2 linked regions of the Homo sapiens genome follow. The protein of the gene in region 1 binds, or shares a complex with, the protein of each later gene. Each region holds a gene or a part of one and is shown in the gene's direction. Other genes may lie near its edges.

Region 1 (8,254 bases):
AAAACAAAACTGAGAACTAAAGCACTTTAATGCTCAATGTTTCTAATGCTTTGAGTTACAATGTGCTATATAAGTATTAGTTTTACTATTTTTTCATTTCCCCATAAATTTATAACTGACAGCAAGAGACATGTTAATATTTTGATAATTTTTTTTTTTTTTTTTTTTTGAGGCTGAGTCTCGCTCTGTCTCCCAGGCTGCAGTACAGTGGCGTGATCTCGGCTCACTGCAGCCTCTCTCCCAGGTTCAAGCAATTCTCCTGCCTCAGCCTCCCGAGTAGCTGGGATTACAGGCGTACACCACCACTCCTGGCTAATTTTTGTATCTTTATTTTTATTGTTTTTGAGACGGAGTCTCGCTCTGTTGCCCAGGCTGGAGTGCAGTTGCACGATCTCGGCTCACTGCAAGCTCCGCCTCCCGGGTTCATGCCATTCTCCTGCCTCAGCCCCCCGAGTAGCTGGGACTACAGGCACCCGCCACCATGCTCGGCTAATTGTTTTGTATTTTTTAGTAGAGACAGGGTTTCACCATGTTAGCTAGGACGGTCTCGATCTCCTGACCTCGTGATCCGCCTGCCTCGGCCTCCCAAAGTGCTGGGATTACAGGCGTGAGCCACTGCGCCCAGCTAATTTTTGTATTTTTAGTAGAGACGGGGTTTTGCCACGTTGGCCAGGCTGATCTTGAACTCCTGACCTCAGGTGATCCGCCAGCCTCAGTCTCCCAAAGTGCTAGGATTACAGGCGTTAGCCACCGCCTCCAGCTGATAATTTTTTTTTAAAGGTCATGAAACAATCAGAATTTTTCCCAAGCAAAGATCGGTTTGCATGGTTTCAGCTTACAGGGTCTTTTTAAGGGTCCTGTACTACTTTGCAAAGCAATGACTGCCTGAAATTTAAAAACAGTATCCTACATTACTTGCCAATTTTCACTCAGGGTAATTTAAGTCCTCTCAAGAGTAAAATTACAATGCAGAACCATTTTATTAAGCTTTTGAAAATCTTAATGTGTTTTCAATGACAAAATTTCCTTTGTGTGAGTAGAAAATAAGTTGACTAGAAGTAAACTATCCTATCTTATAGGATGCAGAATGGAGATCTACAGAATAGTGTTATTTGTTGTGATCTTAAGAGAAACAATGTGTACATAATAGAATATAACTATAACTAATAAGCAATGGTTGACACAAAGGTAATTTAGGAAATGTAAAGATCAGTTAATTTATATAGCACTTTACAATTAATGACACATTGCAGACCTTAACAACTCATAGCGTGGTAAAACTATTTTGTAAACATTGCTGCCACCTACCTGTACATTGCAAGCACATTTTATTAACTTTTCCATTATGGTCTACATAGCATAGATAGCATTTCTATTGGAGGATAATTTTTTATCAGAAAAGGATACTTAAATGAATCTCCTTAACAGAGGGACCAACATTTGGCAGTAAGGAGTAAAAGAAAAAAAATTACATTATAAAAAAAAACCAAAATCATAAAACTAAGTCTATTTTATCTTAGCAAATATTGTTATAATTGTGACTATGCTATACTTTTTAGAAGAAATTCATTTTTCATGTGTAATTTTTCTGACAAAATTATATGATAGTCATTTGCTAATATTTTCACTTTTGACTTTTGCAGAATAAATAATAAATGTTTTTGCAAAAGTTTTTAGAACTTAAGCAATTTTATTAAGTTCAAGTTTCCCCATCATTTTTCTATGAAATATTTCAAACATACAGAGAAACTGAAAGAGTATTGTTAATAAACACACCAATGAACTAGATTCAATAATTGTTAATATTTTGCCGTATGTATTTAACTATCTCAATCTCTTTATGATTAACAATTTCAAAGTACTTACAAATATCACAAGACATTTTACCTCTAAATACTTTGATATGCATATCCTAAGAGTAAGGACAAATTACATAGACATAATCACATTATAATACCTAAGAAAACTTTACAATTCTCTAATATCATCTGAAAATTAATTTTTTCATTTTCACTTATTGCTTAATGCTCTTTACAGTTACTTTGTTTTGAACTAGACTCTAATCAAAGTTTACACATTGCATTTGGTTTTCATACAGTGCCTTTGAGTCTCTCTCATTTTCTCTTTCTCTCTTTTATCATCGCTCTCACAGATTTACTGAGGTATAATTTACTGTAAAAGTCACTATTTTGGCCAGGTGTGGTGGCTCATGCCTGTAACCCAGCAATTCGGGAGGCAGAAGCCAGAGGATCACTTGAGCCCAAGAGTTCAGGACCAGCTTGGGCAACATAGGAAGATCCCATCTCTACAAAAAATTAAAAAAAAAAAAATTAGCAGGGTGTGGTGGTGCATGCCTGTGGTCCCAGATATTCACGAGGCTGAGGCAGGAGAATCATTTTAGCCCAGCAGGTAGAGGCTGCAGTGGGCCTTGATTGTGCCACTGCACTCCAGCCTGGGCAACCAAGCAAGACCTTTCTCAAAAAAAAAAAGGTCGCCTTTTTCAGGGGCACAGTTCTAACTAGGAATTTTGACAAATAGATATAGCCATGTAACTACCATCGTAATCAAGACATAGAATATTTTCAGCACCGCAAAAAGTTCCCTCTTATTCCTTTACAGTCTTTTTTCCCCCACCCTCCTCAACCCCTGGTAACCAGCGATTTGATTTCTTTTCATACAGTCATTGATGTCCAGCTTCTTTCACTTAGTACAGTGCTTTCAAGATTCATCCATATTGTATATCAGTAGTTTGCTTTTATTGCTGAAGAGTATTGCACTGCATTGAGGTACATTTGTTTATCCACTCACCAGGACAGATGCACATGTTAAGCTGTGGGGTGGGAATGAATACAGACTAATTTTTAAGTGTTAGTTCAGTTGTGAATATTTTTGTGCTAACACTTAATGGAAGACACTTTGGTAGTAAATACCCATACCATAGTTATTTGATGGAAATCAAAGATCTAAAACAAAATATTCTTTGAAATAGTTTCAAGATTTACAAATTTTAAATTATGTACCTAAAACCATAAGTAACGAAAAGTTTTTTTTACTTCTCTTTCAAGCCAAATTTCTGGATACTTTATGTTCCCATATACACATCTAATTATGTATATGTTAATACTTCCATATACTGATATGTAAATACACACATGCACACACACCCCTTAACTAGGTAAGTAGTTGTGAAAGAAAACTTCAAGATTGTCCTAGCAGTTCATAAGAAGTAATCTTTGATGTATTTTGGGGGGAGATTTATAACGACAAACTTGGGTTTTTAAATAAATATTACTCCCCCCATTAATTAGCAATCCTATTTTAGGATACTAAAACCATGGTGGGCTATTAAGTACTACAACAAGTACATATGGAAGTAAAACGTTTCTCTGGAAACTGTGGAGTCTCCACAACTGTTTTTATAAGAGTACTGCTCTATTTTCTTTAGAACAGTTAATCCTCAACGCCCTCTGTGGCCTGCTTTCTGCAGCAGCACAAGCCATTGCATTCCAAATTTCTCAAAATAAGTGTGGGACTTAGTTTCCAGTGGAAGCAGGAGGATATAATTTTACATGTGGGACTTTACATCTATAATCGTGCTTGCTAAAATTTCTTACCCAGAGGCAAAGAGTGTAGTGATTAAGAGCTCAGTTGTGGAGTGAGAATTCTTGGGATAATAACCCATCCTACCATTTAGTGGTGATGTGATCTTGGGTAAGACACTTAGCTCTCTGTGTTTCAGTGCCCTTGTTTATAAAACAGGAATATTAATTGTTCTCTTCAATGCATGCAAAGCATTTCAGAACTGGGCATAGAGTATGCAGTCAATAAATGTTAGTGTTTATCATTATCTATTCCAAATGTGACAGCACCAAATTATAAGTTGGACTGATTGGCAAAACTGCCAAACATAGTAAAAAACTCTCCATAATGATTCCAATAGCTTTATTATTGAATTCTTACTATGTTCCAAACATTGTGCTTAGATCTTAACAGGAATTATTCAATTACAACATCTCAACCACTTTAATAGTATTCTCATTTTGCAGACAAGAGAATTAAGGAACAGATAACTTAGTTGCCCATAATGGCAGAATTAATGGAATGGAGTGCAATCCAGGCCTAATTTCAGTCAGAGATCATAGTTCCTTTTTTTCTATCAAAAAAATAAATAAAATAAAAAAATTGGCCTTCATAGTTGACAGCATTTGTTAAAGCACTACATGTTTTAAAAATCTATTAGCTCAACTCCTGATTAATGTATTTATTCAATTAGTAAACTATTTTCTGATTAGAATTTTCTTGTAATTTTAAATTAAATAATAAAATAAGATACAGCTTCATAGAATCATACACTGGTCAGGTGAGAAGTCTTCAGAGCGTCTAATTTAGACTTCCATTCTATCACTATGGAAACACCCAGAATGGTGCCGCAATTTTGCCCTCCATAACATAGCTAGTCAATGGCTGGCAGGTTTCAGGATTCTGTATAGAATTCTTTTCAGTGCATCATACTTAAATGATAGATATTTACGTGGGTCATTTGTTGGCAATGCATCATAAAAATATCGCCCACATACTTGAAAAAGAATACAAGCCATCATCACCATTATTATACATAATTATTCAATTATTTTCAGAGATGATGGTTAGATGGGCTGGGCGTGGCTGACGAATCTGCATTAGAAAAATCTCTTCAAAAAAAGATTCTATTAAAAAAAAAGTCGTCTGCAATTTCTACCTCTCATCCTTCCAAGTATTACTTATTATTCCTTAATAGAACTGTTGAGAAGTTTTACATTGGGCACAAGGAGCGGTTCCCAGGATCGTGCCTTCCTAATAAAAGCCCAGTCTCGCGCCTGTCCCGGGCGCGGCGCTGAGGAAGGGAGGTGGGAAGAGCAGAGCGGCTAGAGGTAGGGCGGGCGGGTGGGTCTGCAGGCTGGAGGGCCGTTGGCCTGGAGCATGAAGGGGCGAGCCCACTAACGGCTTGCTTCCTATTGGACGGCGCGGCCCGTTTTGCGCATGTGTCTCCGGGTTCAAACCCAGGCACAGGCCAAGCGTTCTTGTTTGTTGAGGGCGGAGCCAATGGCGGGGGAGTGTTGTTAGCGCGCGCCTTCCGGATCGCAGCTCTCGCGGCAGTCGCCTGAGACTTAAGGTTATTGCTTGGCCGCGGCCTGGTATTCCGGCGATTCGTTTCTTGCTCGGCTTCCTGGAGCTGTGGTCCGTGTGGGCTTCCACCTCAGACAGTTGCGCTGGCTCAGCGGGGCCGGAACATGGCTGCGTCCGGTCTGGTAAGTGCAGGCCCCCCGCTCCAGGCGAGTGGTTGAGCGGCTGGCTGGGGCACGGGCGCCCGAGGCTGGGGAGAAGGAAATGCTAGGCTGAGGCTGTGATCTCTGAGGGATTTCAGTGGGAAAGCCGCAGGAATTTTTGAAATCAAGTGTGATCGTGTGTCGATAACCAGAGTTAATTTACTGTACTTTTATTATTTCTTAAGTTTTCATGTCGTCATTTCGTCTGTGCCTACGTCTTACTCTTGAGAGGTGCTTGTGATTTCTGCTGGGTTTTTTTTTGTTTTTGTTTTTGAGACGGGGTCTTGCTCTGTCCCCCAGGCTGGAGTGCAGTGGCGCGATCTTGGCTTCTGCTTTTTAGTCTAGCTCCAGTTCCTAGGCCTCCAAATAACTTTTCTCCCCATGGTAGAAGTATTGAAACGCCTTAAAAGTGTGTCTTTGCGTCACACTTGGTAGTTGGGAGAAACAGATTATGTAACAAGTACGTCTCGAAATAATTTGACGTTTTCAGTTCTTCTGTCAAAATGGTGGCCTTTTATGCAGTTCTTGAGGCTGATTTATGGAGCATATGTTATTGACAAACTCTTCTGAAAGACAGCTATCAGTTAAAAGGTACAAGCTGTGAATGACTAATGGGGGCGACAACTCATTTTGTTTACATATTTCTGGACTTCTTTGGTGTTCACTATTCTATATTTCATACTTTGGTTATGGTTACTATATAAAAATCCGTATCATTTCTTTTCTAATTTATCTCCCCTTCTAAGAAAATCTTCAGCTTCGATGATCTCCCATTATGTGACGTTATACATATAAACATAAAGAGTTGTATGAAAGAATAATATAATCTATACTTTTTACTATGAGCACATATATTGTTTACATTATATATAATCAGAAGAAAGCAATAAAGCCATTCTCACTGTGGGGAGAGAAGCGGAATAAAGCTTACCAGATGCCTGCAGTTCAGTTTTTAAATGCCTGTCATAACCTATGTTATGTCATAACATAACCTCAAAATTGTTTTGAGCCCTTAGGAGATGTTTGGTGTATAGCATGCCCATACTGGATGAAGTTACTTTGAAAATAAATTTTACTCGACTCTATCTTAAAGAAACCAAATTGATGATTTACTTTTCTTTCAGGATCATCTCAAAAATGGCTACAGAAGAAGATTTTGTCGACCTTCCAGGTGATTTACGTACTTAAGCTTTTAAGATTATTTTTATTCTCATCGTTAATAGATTTTTAAATGAAGAAAGGAAAAACTATCACCTCTGACTAATATAATGATTTCTGTGCCCACTGATTAAGGGTAGTCATCTTATACTAACGGGAATGTTAATGCAAGCAGTGCAATGACTTTGTGGCTGTGAAAAAAGAAATTCACCTGATAAAATAGTGGAACCAGGAAGAGGGAGTCTCAGTTCTGACTAAGTGACTGCCATGGGAAAAGCATTTTGTAGAATGAATCAAATGGTAAAATTAGAAAGATGTAGCTTATTCAGTGGGGCAAAAAGAAAAATAGTACATGCTGTCGTGCATTTGTTGAGTGCTTGTTTGGGTTGTTTTGGTTCTTCTTTTAGTTGTAAAACCTGTAAAAAGTAAATTTTCTAGTTAAATATTTACTAGTAATAGGATGAAAAGCATGTTTTTAAAAGTGAAGATGTTATTATGAATAACGTCATGTTTATTGAGCTGTGATTTTAGTAGGTCCAATGGGGCACAGAAGTATGTTCTTTTGTTTACAAGAAGCTTAGATTTCTGTTGGGAAAATGTATATGTACATTTGTGAAACAATTTAATGGACAAAAATTATTACTTGCAATACTGAAGTAATGACTTGTGTATCATAGAGAGTAGGCCTATATATAATTAGGCATTAACTTGCAGTATAGACAGCCATGTGAGAAATTAGGGATTTGTGTGTTGTTGATATTAAGAAAAGCTTTAAAGTTGTAGTGTAACTTTGGTGGACCTTGAACAGGTATTTAAAGACTAAGATAAAGTATATTCCAGACATAGAAAGTAACTTAACGAAGGAACCAAAGTAGGAATACATATATTTGTCAGTAGCAGAGAGACCTGATTTAAGAAGGTTGAATATGTTGGGTAGAAGTGGAAAACAAGACCATATGAGTTGGATTGAGCCATAAAATGGATATGTTAGGCTTTAGGCATCTATTATAGGCTTGAATAAGCTCTCCTAAATCTTCTGTGGAATAAGGGCTATCTGATATAAACACACACACACATTTAAAAAAGCAAAGATGTTTGATGTTTACAAAGTAGCTTAAGGAGGGTGTTGTAGTAATCTACACATGGTGGAGGTGCTTTTATGCTAAGGTAATAATGACAAAGGGGAAGAAAAGACGAATTTGATAAATTTTGAAAAAGCTGTTGCCTAATGTGACCTGCGTTCTAATAGTGACTCTGCATTATCACCTTGGCAAATCTGATCTTTTTGGATCTCATCCTTGAAACAGGTAATAGCAGGAGTGTATTTATAGCTGTGCAATATGTGCACCTGTAGGTGGTATTTTGGGGTGATGTCAAGGCCAGAATTTATAATAGTCACCTATATATATTCTGGTAGAAAACCGGCCACTAATACTACTTAGGTTTACAAACTGAGGTAGGCCATTTGACCATTTTGGGTTTCAGTTTGCCTATCTGCAAAATGAGGGCATAGGATTCAGCTAGGGGTTTTTAACTAGATTTGCACATCAGAATTACCTCCATCACCCTAGGAAATCTAATTAAATTGGTTTGTGGGAAGTGACCAATTAAGTGTATTTCTGCAAAGCTCCAAAAGTAACTTTACACATCTATTTGGATGATGATTATTGGACTGGATGATTTCTGAGATCTTTCAGTTATAAAACTTTATGATGGATGACCTGATAATGCACTGTGGCTCACAGTTTTTAATTACTGCATATATAGTACTTTTCCAGCTCTCAATAATA
Region 2 (8,228 bases), on another chromosome or scaffold:
AAGTGTTATTTTGGCTTTTATTTTTTAAAAAAAGAAAAGGAAAATTGGCAATTGTATTAATCCATTCTCGAATTGCTGTAAAGAAATACCTGAGACTGGGTAATTTAATTTATAAAGAAAAGAGGTTTAATTGGCTCACAGTTCTGCAGGCTATACAGGAAGCATAGTAGCTTCTGCTTCTGGGGAGGCCTCAGGAAACTTACAATCATAGTGGAAAGGCAAAGGGGAAGCAGACACATCTTATGTGGCCAGAGTAGGAGCAAGGGGGCGCAGGAGGAGGTGCCACACACGTTTTAAACACCCAGATCTCACAAGAACACTCAAGAGGACAGTACCAAGTGGAATGCTGTTAAACCATTCATGAGAAATGCACCCCCATGATCCAGTCACCTCCCACTAGGCCCCACCTCCAAGATTGGGGATTACATTTCAATATGAGATTTGGGTGGGGACACACATCCAAACTATATCAGCAGTACTGGACATTTTTCATGAGAGAGAAGGGGCACAAGAGGATGTCTGGAGCTAGCCTCTAGAATGTTGGTGTGGAAAATCTCTCCAATGTTTGAAAAGCATACCAATTACCTAGTCCTCCATTCATTGTTCAAATGAAGAAACCCAAAAAGCAGAAGTAACTTCCCAAGGGTCACACAGTCAGTTAACAGGCAAAAGCCAGATGTCCTGGTTCTCAATCCTCGCCTGTCCCATTCTGCCACAGATACTGCAGCCAGAGGCCAGGCATGGTGGCTCACGCCTGTAATCCCAGCACTTTGGGAGGCCGAGGTGGGTGGTTCACCTGAGGTCAGAAGTTCGAGACCAGCCTGGCCAGCATGGCAAAACCCTGTCTCTAGTAAACATACAAAAATTAGCTGGGCATGGTGGCACAAGCCTGTAATCTCAGCTACTCAGGAGGCTGAGGCAGGAGAATCACTTGAACCCGGGAGGCAGAGTTTGCAGTGAGCCAAGATCACGCCACTGCACTCCAGCCTGGGCAACAGTGAGACTCAGTCTCAAAAAAGAAAAAAAAGCTTAAAAATAAAGATATAAACCGGGTGCGGTGGCTCACGCCTGTAATCCCAGCACTTTGGGAGGCTGAGGTGGGTGGATCACGAGGTCAGGAGATCGAGACCATCCTGGCTAACACGGTGAAACCCCGTCTCTACTAAAAGTACAAAAAATTAGCCGGGCATGGTGGCGGGGGCCTGTAGTCCCAGCTACTTGGGAGGCTGAGGCAGGAGAATGGTGTGAACCTGGGAGGCGGAGCTTGCAGTGAGCCGAGATCGGGCCACTGCACTCTAGCCTGGGCGACAGAGTGAGACTCCGTCTCAAAAAAAAAAAAAAAAAAAAAAAGATATAAAGAAAAAATGTTTTTGTATACTTGCAGTGTGTGTTTTAAGCTAAGTGTTATTACAAGAGTCAAATTTTACAGTTCAAAAGCTTATAAAGTTAAAACGTTACCATTAAGCTAAGATTAATTTATTATTGAAGAAGGAAAATTTTTCTTTTTAGAGACAGAGTCTTGATCTGTTGCTGTCACTGGGGTGCAGTGGCATGATCCTATCTCACTGTAGCCTTAAACTCCTGGGCTCAAGTGATCCTCCTGCCTCAGCCTCCCGAGTAGCTGGCACTACAGGCATGCACCACCGTGCCCAGCTAATTGTTTTTATTTCCTGCGGAGATGGGGTCTCACCACGTTGCCCAGACTGATCTCGAACTACTGGGCTCAAACAATGCTCCTGCCTTGGCCTTCCAAAATTTTAGGATTACAGGGGTGAGCCAGTGTACCCAGCCCATTTTTTATACTGTTTTTTTACTGTGCCTTTTCTAGGTTACATATGTTAGATACACAAATACCATTGCATTACAGTTGCCTACAGTATTCAGTACAGGAACATGCTGCACAGGTTTGTCGCCTAGGAGCAATAGGCTATACCATATAGCCAAGGTGTGTGATACACTATACCATCCAGGTTTGTGTAAGTACACTTTATGATTGCACAATGACAAAATCGTCTAACAACACATTTCGCAGAGCATATCCCCATTGTTAAGCATGGGAACTGTATAATGCCTTTATTATATATACATGACTATATAATAAGGGCTATATGATAAGCCAGAGTTACCATGGCACCACAAAATGTTTTTTAAAAAATCAGCCAAGTGGCAGGGTGCGGTGGCTCACGCCTGTAATCTCAGCACTTTGGGCGTGGTGGCACACGCCTGTAGTCCTAGCTACTTGGAAGGCTGAGGCAGGGGAATCGCTTGAACCCGGGAGGCAGAGGTTGCAGTGAGTGGTGGTCGCACCACTGCACTCCAGCCTGGTGACAAAGTAAGACTCCATCTCAAAAAAAAAAAAAAAAAAAATTAGCCAAGTGTGATGGTACATTCCTGTTAGTCCCAGCTACTCAGGAGGCTGAAGTGGGAGGATTGCATGAGTCCAGCAGTTCAAGGCTGCAGTTAGCTGTGATTGCACCACTATACTCCAGCCTAGACAATAGTGCAAGACCCGGTTGTGGGGCGGGGTTAATATATATATATATATATATACACACACACACACAACATAGAATTTACCATTTTAACCAGTTTTAAGTGTACAGTTCAGTGGCGTTAAGCACGTTCACAGTGTTGTGCAACCATCACCACCATCCATATCCAGAATTTTTCATCTTCTCAAACTAAAACTCCCCACCTATTAAATACTAACTCCCCATTCCTCCCTTACTCACTGGCAACCACCATTTTACTTTCTGTCTCTATGAGTTCCGTTATTCCAGGTACCTCATACAGTATTTGTCCTTTTTTTTTTTTTTTTTTGGAGACAGAGTCTTGCTCTATTGCCCAGGCTGGAGTGCAGTGGCACAATCTCAGCTCACTGCAACCTTCCCCTCCTAGGTTCAAGCAATTCTCCTGCCTCAGCCTCCCGAGTAGCTGGGACTACAGGCCCGTGCCACCACGCCCGGCTAATTTTTTGTATTTTTAGTAGAAGCGGGTTTTCACCAGGTTAGCCGGGATGGTCTCGATCTCCTGACCTCATGATCCACTGGCCTCAGCCTCCCAAAGTGCTGGGATTATACAGGCATGAGCCACCACACCCGGCCTTGTCCTTTTTTTTTTTCTTTTTTTTTGAGAGAGGTGCCACTCTGTCGCCCAGGCTGGAGTGCAGTGCCACAATCATGGCTCAGTTCAGCCTCAACCTCCTGGACTCGAGCGATTCTCCCACCTCAGCCTCCTGAGTAGCTGGGGCGACAGGCATACATCTGCACGCCCGGGCTAATTTGTGTGTGTGTGTATCTTTGGTAGAGGTGGGGTTTCTTTCTTCCTTCTCCTCCTTCTCCTTCCCCTTCTCTTTTTTTTTTTTTTTTTTTTTTGAGACAGAGTCTCACTCTTGTCGCCTAGGCTGGAGTGCCGTGGCATGATTTCGGCTCACTGCAACCTCCGCCTTTCAGGTTCAAGCAACTCTGCCTCAGCCTCCTGAGTAGCTGGGATTACAGGCGTGAGCCACAGCACCTGGCAAATTTTTATATTTTTAGTAGAGACGGGGTATCGCCATGTTGGCCATGCTGGTCTTGAACTCCTGACCTCGGGTGATCTGCCTGCCTCGGCCTCCCAGAGTGCTGGGTTTACAGGCGTGAGCCACCACGCTCGGCAAGATGGAGTTTCGCCATGTTGGCCAGGTTGGACTCGAACTCGAACTCAGTGGTTCCGAACAACTTGGCCTCCCAAAGCGCTGGGATTACAGGCATGAACCACCGCACCCCAGCCCAGCATTTGTCCCTTGGTGGACTGCTTTATTTCACTTAGCATAACGTCCTCAAGGTTCATCTATGTTGCAGCAGGTGTCAGAATTCCCTTCCTTTTAAAGGCTGAATAACATTGTGGTATACACCCCATTTTGTTTATCCGTTCATCTGTTGGTGTGTATTCAGGCTGTTTCTGCCTTCGGGCTGTTGTGAAGAATGCCGCTATCAACATGGGTGTGAGAATATCTGTTCAAGTCCCTGGCTATATTTAAATTCTTTTGGATATTTAGCCAGAAGTGGAATTACTGGATCATCTGGTAATTCTATTTTTGATTTTTTGAGGAACCACCAATACTATTTTTCACAGCAGCCGCAGCATTTTACACTCCCACCAGCAATGCACAAGGGTTCCATGAAATCACTAATTTTATAACATTTTTCCTGATTACATGTTCACTGTAGAACATTTAGAAAATGCAAGAAATAAAATTTAGAAAATTAAAATTCCCCTTATTCTACATACCGGGACATGACTTGAATTTTTATTATCCCCAACAAAGGGAAGAGAGCATTTTTTTGGGACGATTGCGTTGCTATAGTGCCGAGGCCTGCCCTGCCCGGACCTTATTCTCAAAGCCCCGCCGATCCCGCCGTCCCCGCGACCCCAAGCGTCAGCAAAGTTTATGCAGTTGAACTGGATTCTGAGTATATCTGTGGATAGTTCCTGGGAGAGTCGCAGATACGACACGGGGTTGTCACATTCTCTATGGGTCTGTTTCCTCATCTTTAAAAGCCATCTCTGCGTTGCTAAGGCAAAGCATAAAATGTTTGAGGAAAGCGACTTTTCTAGAAAGCACGTTCTACAAACACACCATCCACGTTCCAAACTGAGCTTCGGTGTTTTGACTGGAGGGCACCTGAGGACGTCAGTACGGTCCCGCAAAGACCAGCAACCAGATTGGCAAGCAGGGGGCAGGAGAATTTCCCGCCCCATCTCTTTAGTTGTCTATTGGTTGATTTTACCATCAGTCTCCCCTGTCCTCCTATCATCGCCGCTATATTTGTGTCTCGGTGCATACTCTCATTGGCCCTACCTGCAGTCGCTCTACGTAAGGGGCGTTCCAGAGTCAGCCACTGGGAGTCGCTGGATTCGGGTTTTAAAAAACGCCGGCCGTGAAGTGGGCGGAGCGAGCGATTTGAACGCGAGCGGCGCGGACTTCTGCCAAGCACCGGCTCATGTGAGGCTCGCGGCACAGCGTTCTCTGGGCTCCCCAGAAGCCAGCCTTTCGCTCCCGGACCCGGCAGCCCGAGCAGGAGCCGTGGGACCGGGCGCCAGCACCCTCTGCGGCGTGTCATGGGCCCGCGCCGCCGGAGCCGAAAGCCCGAGGCCCCGAGGAGGCGCAGCCCGAGCCCGACCCCGACCCCCGGCCCCTCCCGGCGGGGCCCCTCCTTAGGTAACCGGCCGCGGCCCCATCTCGAAGAGGAGAAAACCGAGGCTCGCAGGCGGAGCCCGGATCTCCCGAGTCCCGATCCCGTGGCACTTCCCTGTTGGGGGACAACGCGGTTCCGCCGTCCGGCATCCGCTCCGGGCACGGGCGGTGCCAGCCCTGCGAGGGGCTGGAGCAGGCGGTTCCGAAAGCGGGAAGGGACCGGCTTAGCCACTTGGCTCCTAACGCCGTCTTCTTGTTAGGACTAGTGGTTACCCAGCGCCCACCGCCCACCGCCAACCAGGCATTGCCTCCCACTGTTCGTGCGTTATCTCAGCTTCATATTGTGCCCATTTTACAGCTAATGAGAAAGCCGAGGCACAGGCCAGAGAGCTTGAGCAGAGTCACACAACTTGGTGTTCTGGCGGACACGGGATTTCCAATCCTCTGTGTTTGTGCATTTTTAAATTGCAAAAGTATTGACTGCTTTCGGTGACGATTTCAAACAGGAGTCCTCTTAGGAGGTGTCTTTCAGGGGTTTTTTTTCCCTTCCGGGAGAGGCTGTTAGGCCTTGAACCGAGGCCCTCTGCGCTGCTCACTCTGTTGCCTTCCAGAGCTTGTGTCCGGGAAAAGGGGCCGAAGTCTGTGTCTTAATTGTCTATGGTGGGCTGGTGGATGGGAGACCCAACGGCAGGAGGAGGCAGATGCCTGTATGGTACATGGTGGCAACAGCTGCTTTACTTATCTCTTAACTCTTGCTACGTAGCTATGAGGAAGATGGGAAGTGTATTGTAGTTTATTTGTTTCATTGCTTTTTGTAGAGACTGGGTCTCCCTGTGTTACCCAGGCTGGTCTCAAACTCCTGGCCTCAAGTGATCCTCCTGCCTGGGCCTCCCAAAGTGCTGGGATTGCAGGCATGAGCCACTGTGCCTACAGGCTTTTTTGGGTTTTTTGTTTTGTTTTGGAGACGGAGTCAGGCTTTGTCGCCCAGGCTGGAGTGCAGTGGCGCGATCTCCGCTCACGGCAAGCTCCGCCTCCTGGGTTCACGCCCTTCTCCTGCCTCAGCCTCCCGAGTAGCTGGGACTACAGGCGCCTACCACCACGCCCGGCTAATTTTTTGTATTTTTGGTAGAGACAGGGTTTCACCGTGTTAGCCAGGATGGTCTTGATCTCCTGACCTCGTGATCCGCCCACCTCGGTCTCCCAAAGTGCTGGGATTACAGGCGTGAGCCACCGCGCCCGGCCGGCTTTTTGGTTTTTTGTTGTTTTTTTTTTGAGACCCATCGCCCAGGTTGGAGTGCAGTGATGCCACGAGGGTTCACTGCAGCCTCAACTTCCCAGGCTCAGGTGCTTCTCCCAGCTCAGCCTCCCGAGTAGCTGGGACTACAGGCATATGCCACCATGCCGGCTAATTTTTTGTATTTTTAGTAGAGGTGGGATTTTGCCATGTTGCCTAGGCTGGAGTAGGTTGTTTCTAGATGTTGCTGTTGCGAATGGGATTTTTTTTCTTTCCCAAAACACGAGGATTTAACCTTTGCTTCCAGCCAACTTGCTGAATTCTCGTTCACCCTAGTCGTTTTTAGTTGCTCCAGTTGGAATTTTTAAGTAGACTATTATGTCATCTGCAAATAACTTTTGAATCTTCCGTTTTCATTTCTACACATTTTATTTATTATTGTATGGTACTAGTAAGGCCCTGAGACTCACTAAGAGTGGTGTTTTGGTCATCTTTGTCTTGTTTGTAATTTTAACAGGAATATTAAGTATGATGTTTGCTGTTGCTTTCCAAGGTAGAAGCATCCTTCTACTCCTGGTTAAATGGAAGGTTTATCTCAAATGGGCAGTCAACACTTCTTGGCAGTCCTACCACCTTTGTCTGGTATTCTTTCTTCAATTTTCGAGACAGAGTCTCACTCTTGTCATCCAGGCTGTAGTGCAGTGGTGCTATCTTGGTTCATTGCAGCCTTGACCTCCTGGGCTCATGCAGTCCTCCTGCTTCACCCTCCTGAATAGCTAGGATGACAGACCTGCACCACCATGCTTGACTATTTTTAAACCTTTTTTGTAGAGACAAATTGTTTTGTCTCTACAGAACAAAAAAAAAACAGCCATCGTGCCTGGCCTTTGTCTGGAATTCTTGCTTTTCCATTCTCCCCATGACTATTTCATACCTTTTTCTCCCTCCTCGACTTCCTACAGCTCCATTCCCCCCACTCACTCTTAGCCAATAATGGCCTTGACTAGGTGTCCCCCTTCCTATCAAAGCCCTTCCTTCTACATGGGGTCTTGGTCATATCCTTCTTTCACCTACAGAGGAGCTTTCTACCTGTGCTTAGATAAATCCAGACACTTCACACTGGCATCGGCACATATGCTCTAGTATTTATGATGTTTTGTTTTGTTTTGTTTTTGTTTTTGTTTTTGAGACGGAGTTTCCCTCTTGTTGCCCAGGCTGGAGAGCAACGGCGTGATCTCGGCTTACCGCAACCTCTACCTCCCGGGTTCAAGCGATTCTCCTGCCTCAGCCTCCCGAGTAGCTAGGATTACAGGCATGCACCACCGCATCCGGCTAATTTTGTGTTTTTAGTAGAGACGGGGTTTCACCATGTTGGTCAGGCTGGTCTCCAACTGCCAACCTCAAGTGATCCGCCCACCTTGGCCTCCCAGAGTGCTGGGATTACAGGCCTGAGCCGCTGCGCCTGGCCGTATTTACGATCTTAAGAGAAAGGGCAGGAGTGTTTCCTTGACCCCACATTCTCACTTCCCTATACCTCCCATTTCCCTCTACTTCCCTTCATAGCTGTCCTTTTAAAATAGCCAGACTTGTTAGGTCCACATACATTGCATCTGATTCCTCCCTTCCTAGTGACCCTACAACCCACTCCAATCTGACTCCCCACAACCACTACCCCCACTTCTAATCTGCTTGAACTACTCCTGTCAGGGTCACTAGCACCTTTTGTAGTGCCAAATCCAGTAGGTGGGTCTGTGTTCTTACTGTGTCTCAGAAGCATTTGACGCAGTGGGCCTCTTTCTCCTTGAAGCGTTCTGTTCC

Evidence for each region. Proteins that work in one complex are often made in the same cells at the same time.
Region 2: CENPC (region 1) and CENPA share a complex: the UniProt entries of both Homo sapiens proteins name them as parts of the CENPA-NAC complex.

What each region holds. Positions count from the first base shown.
Region 1 is NC_000004.12:67,542,372-67,550,625, reverse strand, and holds the start of CENPC (centromere protein C), read left to right. Parts: upstream 1-5,122; 5' UTR 5,123-5,270; coding exon 5,271-5,288; intron 5,289-6,430; coding exon 6,431-6,477; intron 6,478-8,254. UniProt on the Homo sapiens protein: Component of the CENPA-NAC (nucleosome-associated) complex, a complex that plays a central role in assembly of kinetochore proteins, mitotic progression and chromosome segregation.
Region 2 is NC_000002.12:26,781,097-26,789,324, forward strand, and holds the start of CENPA (histone H3-like centromeric protein A), read left to right. Parts: upstream 1-4,959; 5' UTR 4,960-5,100; coding exon 5,101-5,200; intron 5,201-8,228. UniProt on the Homo sapiens protein: Histone H3-like nucleosomal protein that is specifically found in centromeric nucleosomes. Replaces conventional H3 in the nucleosome core of centromeric chromatin that serves as an assembly site for the inner kinetochore.